Homo sapiens: one gene and its partner. The protein of the gene in region 1 interacts with the protein of each later gene in a biochemical or structural test. Each region holds a gene or a part of one and is shown on either strand. Other genes may lie near its edges. The genes, in order: NPNT and ITGA8.

Region 1 (11,574 bases):
GACAAAACTTTTAATTTCATAAAGACTTTCTTTAAAATAATCAAGAGTTTTCAGAGATATTTCATTCAATCTGATCAGCCTCTTTTTGGTTTGTTCTGCCCCTTCAAGCTTACTTCTCAGCCCCACATTCCTCTACCTGCTTATATCAAAACAAAGACAGGCAGAACTCTGAACTGACAAGAGACATTTGCGCCATCTAAGATGCTGGAAAAATAAAATACACAGAAGGAAACATTCACCTTTGAGCTAATTTTTACAACCTCACCAACTTCAATGTTAATAGTAAAGAACCATTTGTGCCTTTTTAATTGAAAGGGATTTTATTTCACTGTAACATAGAAAACCTTGGAACTACTTTGATTTTGGAAGTATAAACATAAAAGGTGAAGCAAACGAATGTTTGCCTAACTGCTATGTGCGAGCTGCTTGGCTAGACCCTTTGCACGGGGGGTCAATTACATTCTGTTAAAGGGAGATGGTGGTAACTCCAGTTTCCAGTAAACAAAAGAAGTAGGCAAAGCTGCTGTACACTCACTGGTTAGTCTATTCAATATTGTTTTAAGGGAAGATGATCAAAAAAGAAGAATGGTGCCTGGTGGAATTTAGTCTTCTGTAGTATCAGAAGTATTTGCACAGCTGGAGACTGCAGGTATAGAACTACTCATTTTTCACTCAGGAGGGTTATGTGTAGGTGTGTTGGGCCAACAGAAGGGTCCTTTCTTCACATTTTGGTTATTAGAATCTGTTGGTTCTCAAATTCCATACCAGGTAGGCAAACATTCATTTCCTTTACCTTTCTATTCCCAACCAGAGATTGTGGTCTTTATGTGCAATTAGAGTCAATCTGTGACTGTCACTGTCCCTCTTTCACAAAATTAAGGAAGACATTGCAAGCATCCTCAAAAATTAAAATAGCAGAGGGAACTCCTAACTTTCCTGAACTTAAATTTGCCTGACTCCTCACACTAGCAACCCATCTCTAAGGCAGGCTTCTCCATTGCCAGCTCTAGCCTTCGTAACTGCCCTTCTCTCTTCCTCTAAGCCTCCTCCTCATTAGCAATAAAATATATATCCCAATGTAGAACCCAACTTAGTTCCCATCATCTTACCAGAAGTGCCCCCTACCCCCGCCCCAAGCACTCTAAGGGTGCTCTGGAAAGGTACTTGATCATTTGAAGACTATTTTTTTGCAGTAGGAGTGAGATACAATTTTAAGATCGCGATAAAATGCTGGGGACAAATTTCCTAAATTTCTCAAACTCTTTTGATGTAGCTCTAAATTTTACCATTAAAATATCCATTTGTGGTCACAGAAAAGGTGAAAATCAGCTTTCTGATTTGGTACTTATTACATGAGGTTGGTTACTTATAGAACTTACAAATAATGTTGTTTCAGTGGCTTTGTTTCATTATACTGGGTGGTCCATTTAAAACACTGTCAATACAACCCCAGTCCAAAAAAGGATTTACAAATGGGCCACTTTACACAACAGCTATGGTGAGGATTATATAAGTACTCTAAGGTTCAGAGTTTATTTTGTGTAAATACGGTCTAGACTCATTATCTTATCCCCAGTGTAAATACGGTCTAGACTCATTATCTTATCCCCATCTCCCAGCCTGGAGCAAGCGAGTCAGCGAGAGAGAGAGAGAGAGAGAGAGAGAGAGAGAGAGAGAGAGAGAGAGAGAGACAGAGAGAGAGAGAGACAGAGAGAGAGAGAGAGAGAGAAATAAACCTGGTAAGAAAACAGGAAGGAGATGCAGATTTGGGGGGAAAAATGCTAAAAGAAACATTTAAGGTGGCTCTCTGTGAATGACAAAGCTGGGCCGTAATACAGGTGGCTAAAGCTGAAAAGAAGCAGAATAAGGAGTCTGGACTGTACCTGAAAATCCCCAAGTCAGACCTGCAAGGCCAAGCCTTGCTCAGTAATGAACCCTCTGATATGTGGGGTGAAGCCATGAACAAGGTGGAAAGCCACACCTCCCAGGGAACTGAAGTCCCCAGGCTTGATACTCACGCTGACACTGTCCCCAAGACTGGCGAGCCCAGCCCCAGCAGCAGTCAATCCTCCCACCATAACGACATAGGCCAATCGATGACACTATTTGCCTGGGCCACCTACCAAAAAAAAAGATTCAAAATAAATAAGGACACTTTTGAGAAGAAAGGTAATTTCCTCTGTATTATTACTTCAGAAAAAATGTCAACCACACCCAACAATTTTCTACAAACTCTTTTATGCCTGCAGAAATTTAAGGTTAAAACACCTTCACAGAAATAGTTCTGCTATGATCTAATGTCAAATTTCAGACAGTTAAATACCCCATCCCCCAACACACAAGGGTAGGAGAAAAAACGGGAGGGAAAGATGCTTTCTTAAGTAGAAATAGCACCAGCTAACACCAACAATTCTCAAGGCTGCCACTCACAGGATAGTTTCTGAAGCTTGAAATAAAACAGATTCCTCAAAGACCCACACCTGTTACTGGGGTGAAAGCCAGGTTTGACTGATTCACCATAAACTGAAAAGTATTAAGTAAGACATGTCAAAGCAGAAAAAATTTCTGCCTCATATAAAAGGTGGATGGGGGAAGGAGCAGAAAGGTTTCTCAAAAATCAAGTGTAACAGAGCTCTTTTTGAGACATAACTGTGGCAGAAACAAAAAAAACAAAAAAGTACTAGAAAAAAGTCTAAATAAAACCAAGGAGAGTTTAAAGTGTAGCTGATATCTCAAGTATCCTTGTGGTTTGAAACGTGCTTAGATCAACAATTCATAGTATTTTCCTCTCTAATGTAAATAATGCCTAAAGAAAGTAATTTCAGGATACAGATTTATCCACCTGATTACACGTTGACACATTATTTGCTAAATTGTTTCCTTGTTTAGAGTCACACCTAAATGACTTTTTTCCTCTGGGTATCAACATTTTAATTTGCTGTTTTAGACATCTTTTTAAAGTTACAAAAAGCTATATGCATTCACATCATATGCATATCTTGTGATGGGTTTCTTGTTGCAAATATGTGTGCAAGAAATGCATAACATACCCAAATGTGAGCACAGAATTGCTTTTAAAAATAAAATAAAAAGGTCTACACTCTGGCTGCTATCACGTTTTCTTAAAGTCTCCTTATCTTTTTCAATTCCCCTTTTCTTTTACCTGCCTTTCTACCCCCAGGCCCAAAGTACAAAATAACCCCGAACTTTCTATTTCCTCCGACCAGGTAGTGAACAAGCAGCTGTGCTTTTTCTTGGCGCTCCACTGGTTCCCCTCCGTTCGCCTCCGGGTACAAGAAAGCGAATCAATTGTGGAATTGATTCGTTCCAAGATTAAAGGTAAAACAGGTGCGGCATCTTTCTTTAGGACTAGGCAGGGACCTACACGGAGGGGTGGGGGCAGAGGTCGCTGAAGGAAGGCGACCGGGCGACGGTGTGCGCCAGAGTAAAACCTCTTTTCGCAGCAGCCATCTGCACCCGGGACGAGCCTAGTCTGTAATTGCACAGAGGTGAGGGGGACCGAGCACACCCTCCCGACAGACCCAGTGTCTCTCACACACCGGAGCGGCCCCGGAGCGCGGGAGGACCGGCTGAGTGACAGCGGAGACGCGGCCCGAGGTTGTTGGAACCTGTCACAGCACGCCGCCGTCAGGCTCGCCCGAGTCTGAGGAGCGGCGCAGTGTGTGCGCTCTCACACACACATCCACACACTCATGCTCACATTCACGGAGCGCCCACCCTCCGGTCCTCATTTTGAGTCTCCTTCCCTCAAGAAAACCAAATGGAGAGGCCCACAAATCTCCCCCGTAGCCCAGTCGCTGACTCGCACCCACTCTCTGTGTGAGCGGCCCCGAGAGCCCTGAGCAGAGCCCGGGCCTCCCCCCGGGGGCCTGGAAGCTTCCCCAGTGAAGAGCCGTCTAGTTCAGGCGCGGGAGTTTCCCGGGTAAGGGATGTTTCGCGCGTCACCTCGGCGTAGGTGGCTAAACCGCGCCCTCAGAGCCGAGATCCCAGGCTCCAGCGGCTCCTCTCCCTCAGTCCTAATTCCCGAGCCGGGGCGAGTCGCCCTCGGGGGGCCGCGGATGGGGTCCCAGACTCGCAAGGGCGCGCCCTCTCCGCCTCGGGCGGGCACTCGGAGCCGCTGGACCGCTCTCCTCGCGCCACGCTGTGCGGTGGCCCAACTTCTGGATGGAGGAGACGCCTCTCTGACCACGAAACCCCGCGGGGAAAAGTGACCCAAGACAGTGAGTGTGAAATTAGCGCGGGAAGGAGGAGAGGGCGCCCCGGGGCCCAGCTCACCTCCCGTCGAACTCGGCGGCCGCCTGCAGGTAGAGCGAGGATACCAGCACCAGCGCCAGGAGAAAATCCATGTTGGGCAGCGGGTCCTGGGGCGCAGCGCAGTGGCGCGCGAGGAACAGGTTGGGGTGGTGGGCGCCGATGGGAGGCGCCCCTCTGAGAGTCTCGAGGAACCCCCAGCCCTCGCCGCCCGGGCTACTGCTGCCGCTCCCGGAGGACAGCGGCGAGGCGCGCGGCCGGAGCAGGTCTGCTGCGCGGCGCCCGGAGCCCCCTCCCGCTCCCTTCTAGCTAGGGGAGGCGCTGCAGGGGTAGCTGCACCGCCCGCGGGGAGGGGCGCCAGGGGCGGGCAGGGGGTGCGCGTGCGCCCGACTCGCCGCCCTCCCAGCCCCGGGCGAAGGGTGAGCGCGCTCCGCTCCTCCCGGGGGCCCAGCGGGGCAGGCAACTCGGGGGCAGGGGCGCTGCGGGACGGCAGTGGCTCTTGGGGGTTAGCCAAGCAGGGCGAGCCCCAGCCTGGGAGAAAAGTTGCAAACCCTCTCTGGGAGAGGGAAAGCAGGGTGCCCAGCAGGAAAGGGGAGTGGAGGAGGAAAGGAGCCCGAGGCGTAGGTGCACGCTCCGCAGGTTCCGCCCGAACAGGTGGTGACTGCAGGGGCGAGCAGTAGCTTTCACCGGAGGGCGGAGAAGCCCTAGAGCAGAGAGGTTTATGGGGCTGGAGCTGAGCAGTGTCTGCATTTACTAAAACCACAGCACGACTTGGACAAATTAGCGAAGGCAAACTCTGGGAGTTTGCTTTTCCCGCAGAGTTGGCAAAGGCATATTTTTTATTTTGTAACTAACCAAAAGAAATATTTGGCTCTCCAGTCGGGTTTTGAAGAAGAAATGAGCAGACTGTTTCTGTCTCTATCAGCTCAACTCCCGAGCACATTAGGACAGGACTGCCCCTCTAGGGATGAGTGCCTGCCAGAGAGGAAGGGCTGCTACTGCCTAGTAGTGTTGTGGTGCCTGATCTTGAGGGGATCACTTAGAAACCATTTTAAGTAATCATTGTTCAGTTGTTGCAGAGTAAAAAGTATTGTACTAAATGACTGTGTTCAAATGAAAACATGATTATCCTAAGATGTACATGAGCCCAATCAAGTCACCCCTCTTCCCAACCTTACCTCGAATGACAGCCTTGTGCAGTGATCATCTGTCATCTCCCGTACCTCTCAATGTCCTCATTTCTCTTCCTCCAGTCCATGGCCTCCTTGCCTTTCTTGCATGTTCCAGGCATGCCCCTGCCTTGGGGCCAGTAACTGGCTGTTTTCTCTATCTGGACCCAAATATCTACATGGCTCACACCCTCACTTCCTTCAGTCTTTGCTCAAATGTCACCTCTTCCAGGAGGCCAATCATGATCATCCTATTTAAAACTGCAACTTGCCCTCTGCAAATATCTACATGGCACACGCCCTCACTTCCTTCAGTCTTTGCTCAAATGTCACACCTCTTTGAAGAGGCCAGTCATGACCATCCTATTTAAACCTCTAACTTGCCCTCCTTCTGATGATCCTTGGCCTGTCCTACTTTGTCTTTTCTCCATACCACTCATCTTTTATATTACTATATAACTTGCATATTTTTTGTTTGTATGTTTTCTTTCCGCTAGAATGCAAGCTGTACAAAGGCAGGTATCTTTATCACCTAGAACACTGCCTGGCACATAGTAGGTGCTCATAAATGTTTATTCAATTCATTTGCTACATTACAAACGTTTTCCCCCCATCTTCATTTTCTTTTTGAGGTTTCTACAACTTCAAATTTTTAATGGAAAGTTCTGTGGTAGGGTGATTCACTATCCTGATCATTCAGTGTGTGTAAAAACAGGAATTTTCTTCAAGGAAAGGAAAAATAATGGTTTCAACTTAAATGGCTCTTTGATTTCTAAGTTGTTTTCAGTTAGCAAAACAAGTTTCTATTTTAATCTCAAGAAAGATCCATGCCAATTCAGGCTTGGGACATTATTTTAGGCAAACAGCTTGGTGTCATCCATTTCAGGTCCTTCTAATGAAGTCCAAAAATGTAGGAGTCAAAATATTTTTTCTGCAGAAAATCAAATTTTTGTAAGTGTAGGCATGGTTCCAGGTTCCAGTGGCTACTCCTTAGCTGTTTTTGTTTGTTGGTTGGTTAGTTGGTGCCTGGGTTAGATTTACAAATAAACCTCACTGTGTGCAATGGATGATTAGAGAGAAAGGGGGTAATATACGGCTAAAAAACTGGAGATCTAAGGAAAAGACGAAGAGTGGTGGATGAAAACAGGATAAATAACTGGAGGGAAAAGTGTAATGCCCCATCTACATGCGTCTTTCTTTTGTTTTCCATATATTTGCTTTGGCCTAGAAAACACTCCTTCTTCATTTAAATTTAGCCTCCTCTTCATTCCTCTTCCTTCTTCATTTGGACAATCTCCCCTTACCCTTTGAGTTTAAATTTAGCCGACAGTCCCCCAGGAAGCCTTTTCTGACTTTTTGATTGGCTGAGACTAGTGTTTTATATACTTCTATTACACTTAGCATGCTCTAAGGTAGCTCTTAATGTATTGTGTTGTCATTGCCTCCCTACCACTCTGGGTCCCGTGAGACATTAGTCTAACCAATAGAAGGGCCAGGGCAGTGTCTGTCTTGTCACTATATCCCTTATCCCCAGCACAATGCCTGGCACAAAGCTTAAGTTCAGCAAAGATTAAACAGATGGATTGGATTAAATTGAATTCTGCCTGTGAACTTTAGCTTCTCCCTTCAGTAAAATGTAGCTAATTATATCAGTCTTTGTTAAATCATGGAATAAGGAGAATCTAAAGGATTTCCAAGGTCTAACTGGTTATTATGCTGCAACTATGACCACCAATGATCATTCCGAAAAAGAGGCAGAGTTGCCATGGGAGTGACATTTCATTATCTCAGTCTTAAAAACAAATGAGCAAGAATGAGATCAAAACAGCTAGCTTTTAGCAATAACTACTTTTTCAGGAGGACAAACTTTTGATAGGCTTCTTACCAGGTAATGACACCTTGCAGGTAGTAATCTCAATTTTCTCGTGCACAAATAATTTTCTGTGACCATTCATAATGTGATACAGATAAATAGCAAAACAGAATCAAACAAACACAACTTCAGACCTTTCAAATTTAGAAGCTCATAGTCTTTTTTCTTTTCAGTAAATATTTATTAAGGACCTATAATGTATTGGCCATTTCTAGCTAGGTGCTAGGATTTCAGCTAAGGACAAGACAAAGTCCTGCCCTGAAAGGGTTTACATTCCAGTGGGGGAGCAATACAGAAGGACTATGTAGAGAAAAAAGGAGTAAGGAGAGGATAAAGGGAGGTTACGGTTGTAGAAAATGATGGAGGTGTGATTGTAGATGGAGTGCTTTGGTCACCTTTGGGGAAGTAACATTTGAGCAGAGACTGAATGAAGTGAGGGAGAGAGCCACGTGAGGGTGTGGGATGCAGCCCATGTCCACGCAGACAGTAGAGCGGTGTGTTTTCTCTATCAAGCTCTGAAATGACTTCTCATAGTTGGTGTCATACAAACCATTAAACAAGATATTGCTCCCTCTCTTCCCACACCCCATACACAGTAGTGGCACAGGCATAGGATGACTGCTTTTAAAAGCTCCTATTAAGATAAAGATACACATAGCTTCTTGTTCACAGCAATTTTGACTCACAGCTGAGCAAGAATTATGGAGACTCTCTGTTCTGGCAGTGCAGAAAGTGCCTTGGTTAGACATTTGGGATACTCTGCTTCTCTTAGAGGAACTACCTTGTCCATAATTTTCCATAGCCATATCAGAAGTGACTGTTACAGAAAATGCCTTCCTAGGGGGCTGCATATCATTCACAACCCCTTTTCTGCTGATAAAAATTTGAAGGCTTGAGTATTGCTTTAAGGAGCTAACAGATTCATGGTTTCTGTGGCAACTAGATTTCCTTAAAACCGTAATAGGCTTCTGATCTAATTGCTTCCAGTCAGTTGCTTGTGGAAATAACAGCAAAGTCTTTTCTAGTCCTAGTTCTGAAGGCTGCTCTATTTCTTTGCTTCCTTGTATCCATACTTTACTTTCTCATCTTAATGGAGGGCCACCTTGAGGCTAGCTGAAATAATAGTGTTGCTTAGGAGGGCGATACCTTACTCTGATCCTTGCCACAAGGCTTGGATCCCTGCATTTTTATTAATGTTTGGGTCACAAAAACAGCTGTCTTCTTCAGCCCTGAGAGGCCCTTAATTTCTGGACATTCTCACTTCCTTCCATTTCTGCTTGCAAAGCAGCCAGTTCTTGCCTGAGTTCATCTTTCTTATGATACCTTACTTAAATCAACAAAGAACAGTGAAGTACGCTAACATTCTCATTTTTACAACTATATTCCTTTGACTTGGATATGTGATGTGCCTTCCAAGTTATTATAGATAACAATTTTATGAAATAGCATAAGCATCACCAGCTTTCTAGCCTACACAGAGCAGCTATAGTTATGCCTTGTAAAACCACAGTCCAACTGAATAATCCCTCCAATGACTTCCCATCATAAACAGAGCAAAAAAACTCTTTGCTCTGCCCCCCTACCTATATCTTTAATTGCAAATTTGCCTGACCATTAAGAAAATGCAGGGTTTTAAATTAAGAAAGCATCTTTTCTGGTACCAATTTCTATGTCAGTTAAGGTGAAAGGTTAAAATGCTACAACAAAGAGCCCCAAAATATAATGACTTTCAAAAGATAGAAATTATTTCTTCACCATGTAACAGTCTGAAGAGAGTGTATCAGGTTGGTGGACAGCTCTGTTCCATGAGGTCTTTCAGGTCCCAGCCTGACAGTGACTCTCTCACCTTCACAGTCACTCTAATAGTTACCATTCTAGCTAGTGAGATGGAGGAAAAGGAAGTATGGAGGAGGCACAATTGTTCTTGTAAGGACTAGAGCCAGGAAATAGCACCTATTAATGCTGTTCCCTTTCACTGGAAAGAACTAGATCAGATAGTCACATGCAATTGCAAGGGAGACTGGAAAATATAGCCTAGTCATTAACTCAACCTTCTATCACTATGGAAGAAGGAAGAGCAGAATTTAGAGAGCAACTAATAGTCACCACCACAGACTATTATGTGAAGTTATACTTCAGACAAGTGAAGTGTAAGATGTCTTATAGACATTCAAGTGGAGAAGTCAAATAGGCAGTATGCTGCACAACTCTGCAACTCGGAGAGCCTAGGGCTCAAGATGTAAATTGTTAGTCACAACAGTATTTAAGTCCCTGGGACTGGATGAGAGACAGTGAATGTAGATGTAGAATGAAGAGAGTGGAGGGAGAGAGAAGAAGTCTAATTAAGAGAACTAAGGACTAAGAACTAAGGATGTTCCAAAATTTAAGTAGGGAAGAAACCCAGGAAAATGAAAAGGAGGAGATAGGGGTGTAATAGGAAACTCAAGCAAGTATATTGTCTTATAAGCCAAAGATAGAAAGGTTAAATAAGATCAGGACTAAGAAGTGATCATCAGACTTGACAAGGAGATCACTGATGATCTTGATAAGGCTAGTTTTAGTGGGATGGTGAGGATGAGAGTCTGATTCTACTGTCTTGAAAAGAGAAAATGACTTCAAAAGCAAAGTACTTTAGAGGTGAGACAAGATTAGATTCAGTGTTCAAGTCAAAATAAAAAATTATAAATAACAACTGAAATTACAGAATATCTAGAATGTATTGATAAAAATTATATTTAGCTATCTATGCATGGCTACGTCTGTTGCTATATTGCTGGTTAAAATGGCCCCCTGATTGGTAAACCACATTTAAACAGGAAGAGCCAAATACACCTCTTAGCAAACCACTGGGTCTCCTGTGTACAGTGACTCTTATGGGGCATATCCCTTGAAGGGACTCTGGGCACTATGCCTAAGGGGTTGTCACGAGAGATGCTCCAGAGGGGCATGAGTCTATTAAGCCAAGACAGTTTCCCACCTGTGTAAAGTGGGTCACATCTTACACCTGAGCTGTACTGCTGTGTAAAGTGTTCCACCAAAGAGACACAATTGATGCTACACTGGCAAACTGTGGTGGCTGTCCTGTATCCTTCTGTATAAATAGATGCCAAATGTAGCCATGATAGTCTCATGAGCCTGAAAGTTTACTTAAACCTAAGAAGACCTCCTAAGGGTGCTACAGACCCTATGATCAGCACTATATAATCCAGATTAAAACAAAACAAAACAAAAACTCTATTCATAGAGAGAGATGGATCTATTGAGATATATTTCTATTGGAAACAAAAAGCCAGAATACTGTATAATGGTGAAATCTTGGGAGAATTCTTATTCATGTCAGGAACAAGAAGAGGGTGCTGATATCACTATTTTTTATTTGAAATATCCTGGAAATATTATTTGATGCAATTAGACAAGGAAAATATATATAAATACTTGAAAGCAAGAGGCCAAGTTCTCATTATCTGAAGATGATATGATTATATAACTAGACCATATAGTCATTTAAAACCTATTGGAAAAAAAATAAGAATATTCAATAAGCTACATAGTTATAAAAATTGGTAATTTAAATATGGGTGAATACACATCTATATGAAAAATTTAAAAATATGAAAAAATTACCAACTCAGAAGACTGATCTTCAGAATTTTATGCTGGCTTTCTCTTTACAAACTGAAAGCATTTGATATGGTTTGGCTGTGTCCCCACCCAAATCTCATCTTGAATTGTAACTCCCACAATTCCCACATGTCATGGGAGGAACCTGGTGGGAGGTGATTGAATATGGGGCAGGTCTTTCCTGCACTGTTCTCATGATAGTGAATGAGTCTCATGAGATCTGATGGTTTTAAAAACAGGAATTTATCTGCACAAGCTCCCTTTTTGTGTGTGCCATCCATGTAAGACATGACTTGCTCTTCCTTGCCTTCCACCATGATTGTGAGGCTTCCCCAGCCATGTGGAACTGTAAATCCAATTAAACCACTTTGTTTTCAAAATTACCAAGTCTTGGTTATGTCTTTATCAGCAGCGTGAAAATGGACCAATACAGCATTGATCTTTTGGTCTAATGTAGCACATATGAGAAATCAACAGCTTCAGGCACAGCTATTACTGTGGATGTTTCTCACCTATCTTCAAATAATTTTGCCAAAGACAATAGAAGACCTTATTTAATAGACCTTTAATACCATTTTAATATCACAAGAAGAATTGAAATAGGCAGAAATGGCTGACCAACAAATAAGAAAGCAGTTT
Region 2 (12,169 bases), on another chromosome or scaffold:
ACAATCAAATACTTGTATGCTATACTTTGGAACTATGTTGCAATTTGCTCTTCATTATTCCAAAGATGACAGTCCATTTCATTGTCTCATTCGTTCTCCCTTTTAGCAGAAGGGTTACAGCCTAACATTCTTTAACCCATGCATTGGTTTAGAAAATGTAGGAAAAAGAAGAAAGGGAACCTTGAAGTAGACACAGAAGCGAGAGGCATGAATTAGGCAGATGTGATATTTTAAACTCTTTAAGACATAGGGCATAGTTTAAAGAGTTCCTGAGACAAAAGTGAAAGAAACCAATTTGGTGATAGGAGGAATTTTCTTCTATTGAAGTAAAGAGGGAAAGACAGAAGGGAGATCAGAGAAGTGCTTTTTTGGAACCCCTTGATTCTGTACAGAGCAGGAAAATTATCTACTCTTTGCATCTCCCCCACCAGCATATGCTTCTAGTATTCATGCATTTGAAGTGCTGGGCCTAGTGCAAGCTTCCTCTATTTTTGTATTCATCATGAGAAATGTTAAAGAAAATCAAGTTATATGATAAGGTAAAAATAAAATAAATAATGATTATTTCATGAAAAAAAACCTGAAAGGCAGTTTTTAGAAAATGGCAATTGACCTTAAATAAATGGAGGAACAGGATCTCAACTGGACTCTGGGACTCAGTTATAGGGCTGTCTCCTTCAAAGTCTAAGCTGAGAGAATTTAGTTGGTTACCAGAGCAGAATACCCAATTGTAGACACCCCAGGGACCTGAACAAGTTGAAACAACTTCATTGAAAGGTCAAATTTACTTAGGATGTCTTGAATTCAGATGTCGTAGTAAAAGTAGGGTAAAAGACCAGGAAAGTCACTGATGTCTTGACAGATGAATATTTGCAATATACATTTTTATGCCTGACACATCACACTCCATTATGCGGATGTCAATTTGGGGCCACTACTTAGTTAAGCAGAGAACTTTTCTTCCTTTTTTTCGGGGGAGAACAGTACGTTACTGGCACTGAGCAGAGAGTAACTCAGGAGGCAGCTTATCAGAGACCATGAAGGGGCATTCTGTGGGAGTCTGAGCAAACCAGGGGCATATGCGACCCATCATTCCCACCAAGACAAACCCTGCTTCTACAATGCTTCCACCAAAACTGTTTATCCTTTCCAACCCCTCTCTGGAGAATAATTTAAAATGGAATTGTAAAGCCACTGCTGGAGTAGGGGAATGGAGGAGAGGGAGGGAAGGCAAATATAGCCTTCCAAAGCTCCTTGGGGGCTTAGTCATAATCCTGAACTTGCAGTCTATCAGGGTCAATCCTCTCCCCATTTCTGGAAGGAAGGTGAGGGGAACAAGCAGGCTGCGAACTGGGCAGACCTCTATTCCAGTCCTGCCTCTACCACCTACCACTGTACGGTCTTGGGTATACCTTTGATGTCAGTTTCCTTATTTACAGAATGAGTTTTACATAGTTGTTTTGATTTGTTTTATGTAGTAGAAACAATGTGTGTACCGTGTCTGGTACATAGTAGCGATCTGTAAATGGGATGCCTCTGGCAACACTGACTTCAGGACCCAGAGCCAGTGATGTCTGTTTCCACCTTTCATCTTTCGTTTTAACATTCTACTTTGTCCACGAAGTGGATGTTCAGAATGGAAATAGCTACACTGGCATCTGCTGTGCCTTCTTCACTTGCACAGCATTGCATCAAGTAGCTGCCACTGCCAGTTCCACTATCTGAGGGTATAAGGACAAAGCAATTGGCACAGATGAGGTATAGAGGGTGAGCAACCACTTGGTAGCAAACACCTGAGCTGTGACCCTGTGGATTCCTTCCCCACACCCATTTTCAGGCCATTCCCACTGGCAATCAAGGTTTCTGGGCCCATAGTACCCCCTGATGGCCGACATGGGGAACTTTCTTTTCCCAACAATTCCTTTCTCCTCCCCAGTGGGACCTCCCTGTCTTTCACAGGTCACAGCCTTGTTCATTCTGTCATGGACCATTCATTTCTCACAAACTTGTGTAGCCTTTCCTGCCTTGCTTTTTAAATTTCCTGTTCAATTATTTCAGGAACATTGATTTTTCTTCCCCTTTCTTTCTCTCACTTTGTTCCATTTGTGAATTCTGAAATTATTATGATTGTAGTTGATAAGTATAATAGTAGGATTAGTGCATTCATCTATTTATCAAGTAAACCACTATATATTTGGAAGTAAAATAAGACATAGTGTGGAATGAGCAGCATCAATCTCTAAAGCCCTTTGAGATATCTAGACATTTTCCTAACCTACACAAAAGAGGACATTGTCTTCTCCAAGTAACACTGACATTTTCTGGACATTATTTTTCTGTTTAATTGCCAACTTGTTCTAGTTTGTCCCCTACTGTTTTACTGCAAATATAATTCAGCTACAATAAGGGTTAAATGCATTCCTGTGGGCTATTCTGGAAACCAAAGCACATCTTTCAGCATTAGTTCTGTATGGGAGAGTGAATTCAAGGCTTCAAGCAATTGCTTTAGAATGAACTTGGAAAATATAACCTATTGTATTTTTTTTTTTTTTTTTGAGATGGAGTTTCACTCTTGTTGCCCAGGCTGGAGTGCAATGGTGCAATCTTGGCTAACTGCAACCTCTCCCTCCTGGGTTCAAGCAATTCTCCTGTCTCAGCCTCCCAAGTAGCTGGGATTACACCCTTAGGCCCGGCTGATTTTGTATTTTTAGTAGAGATGGGGTTTCACCATGTTGGTCAGGCTGGTCTTGAACTCCTGACCTCAAGTGATCCACCTGCCTCGGCCTCCCAAAGTGCTGGAATTACAGGCATAAGCCACCACGCCTGGCCTACCTATTGTAATTTAATATTGAAAATTTTCAGTTAGGAGTGGTCAGTTATTTTTTGAATTCATAGTTGACATCTGGATTCTCTGGTTTTTAATCTGTTGGCCTATGACATCTATTGGGATGAGTACTTACAAAGTAAGTCAGTTGTAACTTATCAGGGCAGACATTGATTCTTCCTTTATCAAAAGAAAAAAATACTAATCAGATCCTGATTTGATGTTATGAGACTATACAAGAAGATTATTAAATTCTTTTCCACGACCATAAATTGCTTCTTGGTGAAAACACATCAACCATGTCTCAAAATATACTTTCCTTAATGTAAATTCAAATAATGTTAATGATTCATGTCTTTATTTGGCCTGCTTTAAAATACTTTTAAAAATACAAATGATTCGGATATGAATTATTAAAATGGCATTAATTTTGTGTTTAAATGTTTAATTCTTTTGGTTTACGAAGCTTATTCTTAAACTAGAGAGCAGTAGCTAGAAAGTGTCTCAAGTCTTGATAAAATAACTAATTAAAAGATTTCTGTCACAAATTAACATCAAAAGGTTTAATCTTCCTGGTTGCTAATACTCAAATTTAAAAGTAAAAGCTTATAAAAACTGGTATAAAATAACAGAATATTTAATAAAATGATAAGCTATTGTGACCATATATAGACAGGCATGATAAAAATATAATTTTCCAATGCTTTTATAAAATACTTTCCTAATTTGGTCATAATTCAAGGTAATGCTTGTATAGTCTGTTTTGCTTTGAAATATTTTCATATTTATGAAACTGAAATTGTTTTCTCCTTTAACATAAAAGATACAAATTATAGTAACAAGTAAACATCATCCAGCCAATTTCATCGAAATTCTGTGAAAATATTCCGCATAAATTCCATATACGCACTAATCAAACAATTAAAAATCAAAGAAATCAAGTATGTCATAAAATAGTTGTGTGGTACACAAGGTATTTTAAACGATTATTTATCAAGGACCATTGTTCAAGCTGACATATTCGCATTTTTCTGGAAAGAGATATTTGCTTTCTGATAATATATACCTTTTGAATTCATAAAGTTTTGGTGGTAAAAATTAAAGCATTCGGTGTTAATGTTTTTGAAAGCATCGCATTTAAATTATTTTCTCAGGCTCTAAAGAGAAAACACCAGAGGAAACGTAACCAGACTGAATTGTTTAAAATGTATTTTCCCTTTAATTAAATAAGAAACATCTGTCTAGGGATTTTGGAAATGAATGTAATCCATCCACACTCTGCCTGCACTAGTTTGCATTCAATGTCTAATACTTTGAAAGAAAATTCTTTCTTTCTGTAAAGAATTAAACAGCAACGCGGAGTGATGTCTGGGTCTGCAGCAGCTAAGTCCTGCCTCCCGAGCTTGGGCACTGGAAACGCTAAGGATCTCTCTTTTTCCAGATCTGTCCTTGAGAAGCAACCAAATTCTCTCCACAGTCAAAGTTAGGACATAGTTTTTGTATTTCTCCAAAACATCCACTCACCCTGAAAATGCTCATCTCAGAAAGGTAAAGAAACAGGAGTTGCCAGGATGCATCCGAACACTCAGGGTCAAAATAGTGTCCTTTCTCTAGGGTTCACTAAACGTCTTCCTTCAGTTAACTGAGAGTTGAAAAAACTGATTTCTCTAGAGACCCACATAGCCCACAATACGGACATATCAGACAAGCTAAACGAGCAGCACACCAAGACAGCGGGAAGTCGCCTCTGGGATGGCCCTGGTTCTTCCAAACCCAGGCCCACAGCTTAGAAGGACAAATCTCACTTACTGGTGGTGTCAAACGGTATCTGCCTGCACTGCGCAGACCCCTCCGCGGGCCAAGGACAGTAATAGACGGCTCCCCCTTCCACGATATCGGGCTGGCTGGTGTTGGCTTTGGGCGCCCCCACCAAGACACTCGCTCTGCAAAAGAGTTGGAGAAAGTCACTCTTTGGGCGCCACAAAACCGTGCGCATGCAATGCAGTCTCTGTAACCTCCTGCCCGGGGACACTGGGGCAGGCGTGGAGGGCATGAACGTATTTATGATGAGGACCGACTGTCAAACTTGATTTCCTCTTGGAAACGGGGGTCCGCAACCTGGTTTGCAAGAATGCAAACGGTCCTGCTTCTCTAGGTGGAGCTCTGTGGGTACAGTGAGATGAGAGAAGGGGGTGGGGTAGGAGGAAGCCAAGGACAGAGCCCAGCTGCTGGTAGCCGACAGCTCTTGCGCCCAGACGCAATGGTTACAGACTCTGCATAAACAGACCTCGCTGTGGTGGCGGTTTTAACTGGCTTGGGTCTTCTGGGTCCTGTTCTCTCCTTTGTAGGATGCGTGCGTCTTGGTACCTGGAACACCCAGGACTTGCGTGTTCTATGCAAGTGGCATGTCTCTAGCTCAAAATTCACAAGGCACATCTAGCATGGCAGGGGAGAGAAGGGGCTGGTGGCGGGGAGAGGGACGGGACCCCGGGCAGGCGGCAGGACGGGGATCCCAGGCTGCGGGGGGACTCCGCGGCAGAGCCGCTGGGACCTGACCCGGGAGCGCCTTCGTCCCCGCGCGCACCTCCCCGGGTCGGGCGACTTACGTGCGGGCGTCGGGTATGTGGAAGTCCACGGCGTAGCCGAAGTAGCTGCCCTTGGGGCCGCTGTACACTGTGAGCTTTTCCACGTCCAGGTTGAACGCCTGACAGGCGGGGGACCACAGCAACATCCCCAGCGCGGCCGCGGCGCAGCAGAGGGGCGCGATCAGCGGCGCCTGGCTTCCCCGGGGACCGCGGCTGGCCCCGGGCGACATCTCCCTCCGCCCCGGTGGGTGGCTGCTACCCAGGAGCGCGAGCCGAGGACCCCTGCGGGGCAAGGGGGGCTGGTGGAATCTGGCGGTCCCCAGCTGCCCGTGTCCCGGGTCGGTGCGCTCGGCGCACCCGTGGTGACAGTGCCCGGCGTCTGCTCCCACCCGCCCGCCCGCCCAGCCGGCTCGGGGGGCTGGCCCAGGGGCTCTAGCCCTCCTCCGGCCGCGGGCAGGGACCAGCTCTCTCGCGGCGCCTCCTCGCGGCTGGTCTAGAGCCAGGGACTCCCGGGCGGCCCAGCTGGTGGCTGGAGCGCTGGGTGCCTCTTCGGGCTGCCCGGATTTCTATTGCAGTCCCATCTCAAGGACAATCAGTTTCGTCTCTGTCACCTCAAGCTATTTATTGCTTTAGAAGCAATGCCCCAGGTGGAGCGAGAGCTTGCTCCAGTTGTGTCAAAGGCGCAGCTTGGATGGAGAATGTGAAAACCAACCCCACCACCAGGAGGGGCAAAGCAATTATCTCTTCATCACCTCTGCAGCCTGACCTCAGCGTTCACGGCTTTGCACGTCTGTGATGAGAGTTAAAGTTGAAATGCAACAACCCTCTCCTCCCCTAAGTCCACCCCACCTCCTGGCAGAGCTAACTCATATACAAGAAAGCCTCGAGGGTTTTTTTTTGTTTTTGTTGTTGGGTGTCTGTGTGTGTGTGTGTGTGTGCGCGCGCGCCTGTGTGTGTGCATGTGTGAATTTTTTGTTTTTGTTTGTTTGGTTGGTTTGCTTTGTTTTATTTATTTTTTTTTTCTTTTTAGAGATAGGGTCTCTCTCTCGCCCAAGCTGGAGTGCAATGGTGCTATCATAGATCAATGAAATCTCAAACTCCTGGGCTCGAGCGATCCTCCTGCCTCAGCCTCCTGATTAGCTGGTACTGCAGATGACACATCACACCTGGTTAATTTTCTAATTTTTTTTTGTTGACACTGAGTCTGCTCATGTGGCCTAGGCTGGTCTCGATCTCCTGGCCTCAAGCCGTCCTGCCACCTCGAGTTGACTTTTAAAATTTCTTTTCTTTCTTTGTTTCTCTTTCTTTCTCCTTCTTCTTCTTCTTCTTTTTTTTTTTTTTTTTTTTTTTAAGGAGATGGGGGTCTCACCATGTTGTTCAACATGGTCTTGAACTCCTGGACTCAAGCGATCCTCCCACCTAAGCCTCCCACAGTGCTGGGATTTCAGGGTAAGCCGCCTTGCCCAGCCCTTGAGATTTTATTTAAATCTTTCTTAAAGGCATCTTGGGCATATTAAATGACTTAGTAGTAAATCTCCATCCTGTGTAATTGTGATGAAGTTTGGCGCAGTTAAGAATGTTGGAATTTACAGTTTACTTTCTGCGGGGGTAGAAGGTGTAGTTCACAGTCTACAGGAGTTCAGATTTCGGTTCTGATCCGTGGGTGTTGTCAATCTCTTCCCATGTCTCCTGTGTCGGAGAGGACGTGAGGCTTGAGTAGGGGAGGACAGAGAAGAGAAAGGAGTATAGATCCCTTTACATAACATATGGTCATTCGTTAACATTAAACAAAACAGGTCAGCATGAAACCGGAAGGAGCCGAGGTTAAACAGATATGAAGTTTAGAGACAGAAGAGCTAAGTTTTTTCTGAAGCATGTAAGAGGATTTGGTGGCAGATGTACATTTACGTAGGATTTTGAATACGGGGCTTACATTTGGGCACTGTGGGGGGAGAAGTTGAGGGAAGGTATTAATACTTAGAAAAGACAGAGATTAAATGGTTGTGCATGGGATTGGAATAAAAGGGGTGGGTTAGGAAGTGGTGGGAAATAGGGTTGACTGGATCTTCAGGAAGAGGATCTTAATAACAATAACATTTATTGAGGCAAAGGGAGCCAGTTCTAGAGCAGAGACGGGACATACCTTCTGGGGCTCCAAAAGTTTAGGGGTGGGGAGTGGGGGGTAGTTGTTGGAAGGAAGGGAAAGCAAAGTAGGTGTTGCCTAGATGCACTGGGAGGCGAGGACCTCAAGCTGGTTAACAGAAGGGAGGGGAGGGCCACAAATGCTAAAGAAAAGGGACAGGCTGGGCACAGTGGCTCACGCCTGTAATCCCAGCACTTTGGGAGCCCGAGGCGGGAGAATCACAGGGTCAGGAGTTGAGACCAGCCTGACCAACATGGTGAAACTCCGTCTCTACTAAAAAAAAAAAAAAAAAAAAAAAAAAAAAGCTGGGTGTGGTTGCATGTGCCTGTAATCCCAGCTACTCAGGTACTCAGGAGGCTGAGGGAGGAGAATCCCTTGAACCCAGGAAGCGGAGCTTGCAGTCAGCCGAGATTGCAGTCAGCCGAGACTGCACCACTGCACTCCAGTCTGGGCAACAGAGCGAGACTCCATCTCAAAAAAAATTCAAGGTGTCTCAAGGTATTAACCTAGAAAAGAAGAATAGCGAACGGTAGCAGTGGGCTAGGACAGCAGATTGGGGAAGTAGAAGGTGAGTTAGGTGCTGGGCTCACTGATTTGAGTTACTAGCCTGCGATTAGCAATGTAGATGGCAGTTTCGGGAGTGGTCAGTCTGTCCATTGATTTGAGGGTCTATCCAGAGAAAAAAATCTCTGAACTTACTGAAAAGCTGGACTTCTTGTCTCCCTTACATCAGAACCCACTCAGTAGACTGATCTGAATGTTATATCTTTACTTGTCATGCCCCTGTAAAAATAATACAAATAAATAAGCTATCAAAAATTTCCCTGGCAAATTGTCACGTCTGGATAATTTCCTGAGTATTCCTTTCCCAGGTAAAGACTTAGGAGTAGATGGTAGAAGACTTGCTTCTCATTTTAAAAGTTCATTTGCTTTGAACGCAGAGTCTGCTACTCTGATCAAGTTACTATTGTTCATCAAAGTGGTGTTCCCTTCAGTAATTTTCAATGAGGAATTCATGGGCAGCATACAAATAGGAATGCTGACAACTGTGTTGGACACTGAGGTTAGAAAAATAACCTCAACTCAATCATTTCCTGACACTGGCATGCTGAAATTTGGAAATCTGTCCTATTGCAAGCTAGCCTGAGATGGATGAGAACCATCTAAATAGGCAGAAGGTGATAGAATGATCCTAGACATGCACCTGACCTGTGTGCTGACTTACTAGGTGGAACTAGCTATATATTACACAATGCTTTGATTTGCATAGAGAAGCACATCACCAGGGTATCCCATGTTGTACCCACTTGCTTACTTCCTTGGCATATTTCTTAAACTTTTTAGTCTTTTTGTTCAAAAATAGAGTGAGAGGCTGGGCATGGTGGCTCATGCCTGTAATCCCAGCACTCTGGGAGGCAGAGGCTGGTGGATCATCTTGAGGCCAGGAGTTTGGGACCGGCCTGGCCAACATAGTGAAATCCCCTCTCTACTAAAAATACAAAAATTATCTGGGTGTGGTGGCACATGCCTATAATTCCAGCTACTCAGGAGGCTGAGACAGGAGAATTGCTTGAATCTGGAAGACGGAGGTTGCAGCGAGCCGAGATCATGCCAGTGCACTCGAGCCTGGGTGACAGAGTGAGACTCTGTCTCAAAACAACAACAACAAAAATAGAGTAGATAAGGGAAAAAAAATCTGTTTACTGACACATAATTAGGTATATTCTTATTTCTGTGTTCTAAAACATACTTGCTGTTGACTTACATAAGTCTATATTCTTAATATGGTCACTTTCTGCTTTACAGATGAGGACATTAAAGTTTGGGGAGGTAAAATAATATGCATGTTTACAGGGCAAGTAAGTCGTACTATTTTAACCCTATCAAATGCCAAAACCAGTTCCTCATGCTACTAGATCTATAAGGAATCAGGTTTTAAAGCCATGATAATAATGAGAAGCCACCTTTCTAGAGGTAGTAAGCTATTCTGGGCTGCCCTCTGGGCATGCCTATGATTAGTCCTTGAGAGATGGCATAAAGCTGCTGTGTACTTTTCCGAGAGGTCGTGGAAAAAGGTTTGGCTGCACCTTGGTGTTTTGGAGGGAACGCAAACTAACTCCAAGCTCTTTGACCTCCCTGGGAGGCCAAAAGCCTGGGAGAGTAGTAAACCTTCCAAGAAGCCAGGAAAAAAAAAATACCCAATTGCAATAATTGTAGAGAAGGGATAAGTCTGAATAGGTGTCTTGTACATTTCATCATTCTGACATACGGGAACCATGCCAATTGGTAAGATCTGGGGACTCGTCAAAAAAACACATGGACAGTGACAGGTCTCATGCTGAATGAGAAGTTTGACATTTTAAAGATCTACCAGCACTGATTTATTTGTCAGAAAAGCAAGTCTGCGAGTTGTTTATCATCCATGTGAGCATATGTGTATGCTTCGTACTGGGAAAGGTATACATAGTTCTTTCCCTAAAAAGAAAAGAAAAGAACCCAAAGGTCAAAGATGGAACAGATTTGGCCCAAACTTTCCAAAAATAAACAAGTAAAGAGTACCACAGGGGAAAAAAATGATGTCTGAGTTGTAGCCATGTACGAAGTACTTAAAAATAGAAATGCCAGACCATTTAACCAGTTAGTGCATACTTTTCAATCAAAAACATGTCTAACTTAATGACCAATTATTATTTCTGATTGTGTTTCAATCTATTTCTTTATGTGATATGATCATGCCTTAAAATCAAGAGGTGTGAAAGTGTCAATATAATTATTTCATTAATAGAACCACATTTCAAATATTTTAAACTATTTACAGAATAAGCCAGTGTGAATGCAATGTGTGCTCGGAGGCTCCATCAGCTTTAAAAATCAATGCACCAGGAATGGAAGGTAGCTTTTCAGTCTCTACTTAGAAAATGGATAATTGAGGTTATGTCAGATTTTTTTTCTGCCCAACTGAACTCAGCTTTCCTGCAATATTAGAAACAACTGATTAGTAGAAACTGGATGGTTAAACTTACTGAGGGGAAAAGACTTTTAAATGTGTCAGGTGTCTCTGCTGACATCAGCTTATGTCTGCAAATTTTCTATTCGGTCCCTGGAGGGTGAATTTCACCCATAGTAAAACCATTTTTTTTTCTTTTTGATGATTTTGTTTGTAATTCTCTTTTATGGTTTTCCTTCATGATTTTATTAGCCACTTTTAACTTAAAAGTGCTGTAGCACTGGCCCCTGTATTGGCGGGAGTTCAAGCACAGCCAACAGTTGGTTTAGCTGAAGGAAAATTCCCACTAGTCAAAACCAGACTCCAGTTTGATCTCTTTTTAGAACAAGCCTTGAAAAGCAGCTCTGCTTTAAACAAAAATAAAAGTAAAAGAATTCTTCCTCCAAAGGGAAGGTAACTGTGGAAAGCTATGTTCTTCCAAAGCATTGACATTTGAGGATAAATCTTCCTGAGATTCACAGCCCTTGTGGGTGGAGAGGGCTGAGTTTGTAATCAGGATCTTGAGTGATTTACATGTTTCCACAGGGTCAGTTCACTCCAGTATGCTGAAAGACCTACACATGTGTGTTGGGTTGGTGGGCTGGATCATTTAGTAACTATTGGCCAAAAGGACTACAGGAAACTTTTGAGAGGAGAAGGGAACTCATAGCATCTAAGCCGTAAATTAGGAGTCTGGCAATTGAGAATTCCAGTTCCCCAAGGGACTCATGTTGGAGTCCAGTGCAAAGGGTGGGGGGTGGGGAGAGGGCCTGCAGGAATGTTCAAGGTTTTTATTTTATGACAAAAAAACTGAGTCACCATAAAGTGCTAGGGTTCAGAGCAGCACCACCCTGGTCCTCGGCAAAAAGGGCAAGATGAGAAGTGGTGCATTCTTCCCACCCGTGCACGCCCCAGGACTTGAAAGTGTAGGCGTCTGTGAACACAGGGCTGCAGGCACCTTCATGGACCCCAGGTAACAGCAGCAATAGATGTGGTTCTGGACAATCAGGGAGGTATAGGCTTCTAAAGCAGCCAGACACCACTTTACTCAGCTCCTGGGGGAGGCTACAGGACTCAGATGACACACCCAATGCCTCCTACAAATAAGTGGGGAAGTCCTTCAGTTGCAGAAGCGGGTGAAGGCCGGAGCAACTGATGCATTGATAACAGTGTGTTTAAAACCCCAGGCTAAGTTGCTGTGCTTAGTTTGCCTTTAGGAGAACCACAGGGTGTCTAGGACTGCCCTCTAGTGTCTGTGATCTTATTCAAGTGTGTGGGATTTTCCAGGAATAATACAAACCTTCCTTGTGAAAAATGCTTTGGCCTTACAATTTTGATAATTCTTACAAATGGATTTTAAAAATATTTTTTATTAAAAAGTTTACAAACATTGATTTAATCTCTCCCACATTTATTAAGATTTTTATTTCCTTGTTATAGCTTTGCAAATCATTAGGTGAAAAAGAAAAAAAGAAACAGAAAGGAAGGGAGGGAGGGAGGGAGGAAAGGAAGGAAGCAAGGAATGAAAGAAGGAAAGAACAAAGGAACACTGGCAGGGAGAGAGGGAGGGAGGGAGGAAGGAAAGGAGGGAAAGAAGGAAGGGAGAAGGAAGGAAAGATGGAAGGAAGGAA

Evidence for each region.
Region 2: the proteins of NPNT (region 1) and ITGA8 form a complex in vitro, tested with the Homo sapiens proteins (one study listed by BioGRID).

The regions. Positions count from the first base shown.
Region 1 is NC_000004.12:105,888,446-105,900,019, reverse strand, and holds the start of NPNT (nephronectin isoform B precursor), read right to left. Parts: upstream 4,550-11,574; 5' UTR 4,368-4,549; coding exon 4,297-4,367; intron 2,123-4,296; coding exon of another isoform or gene 2,120-2,122; coding exon 2,019-2,119; intron 1-2,018. UniProt on the Homo sapiens protein: Functional ligand of integrin alpha-8/beta-1 in kidney development. Regulates the expression of GDNF with integrin alpha-8/beta-1 which is essential for kidney development.
Region 2 is NC_000010.11:15,714,133-15,726,301, forward strand, and holds the start of ITGA8 (integrin alpha-8 isoform 1 preproprotein), read right to left. Parts: upstream 5,791-12,169; 5' UTR 5,640-5,790; coding exon 5,431-5,639; intron 4,768-5,430; coding exon 4,634-4,767; intron 1-4,633. UniProt on the Homo sapiens protein: Integrin alpha-8/beta-1 functions in the genesis of kidney and probably of other organs by regulating the recruitment of mesenchymal cells into epithelial structures.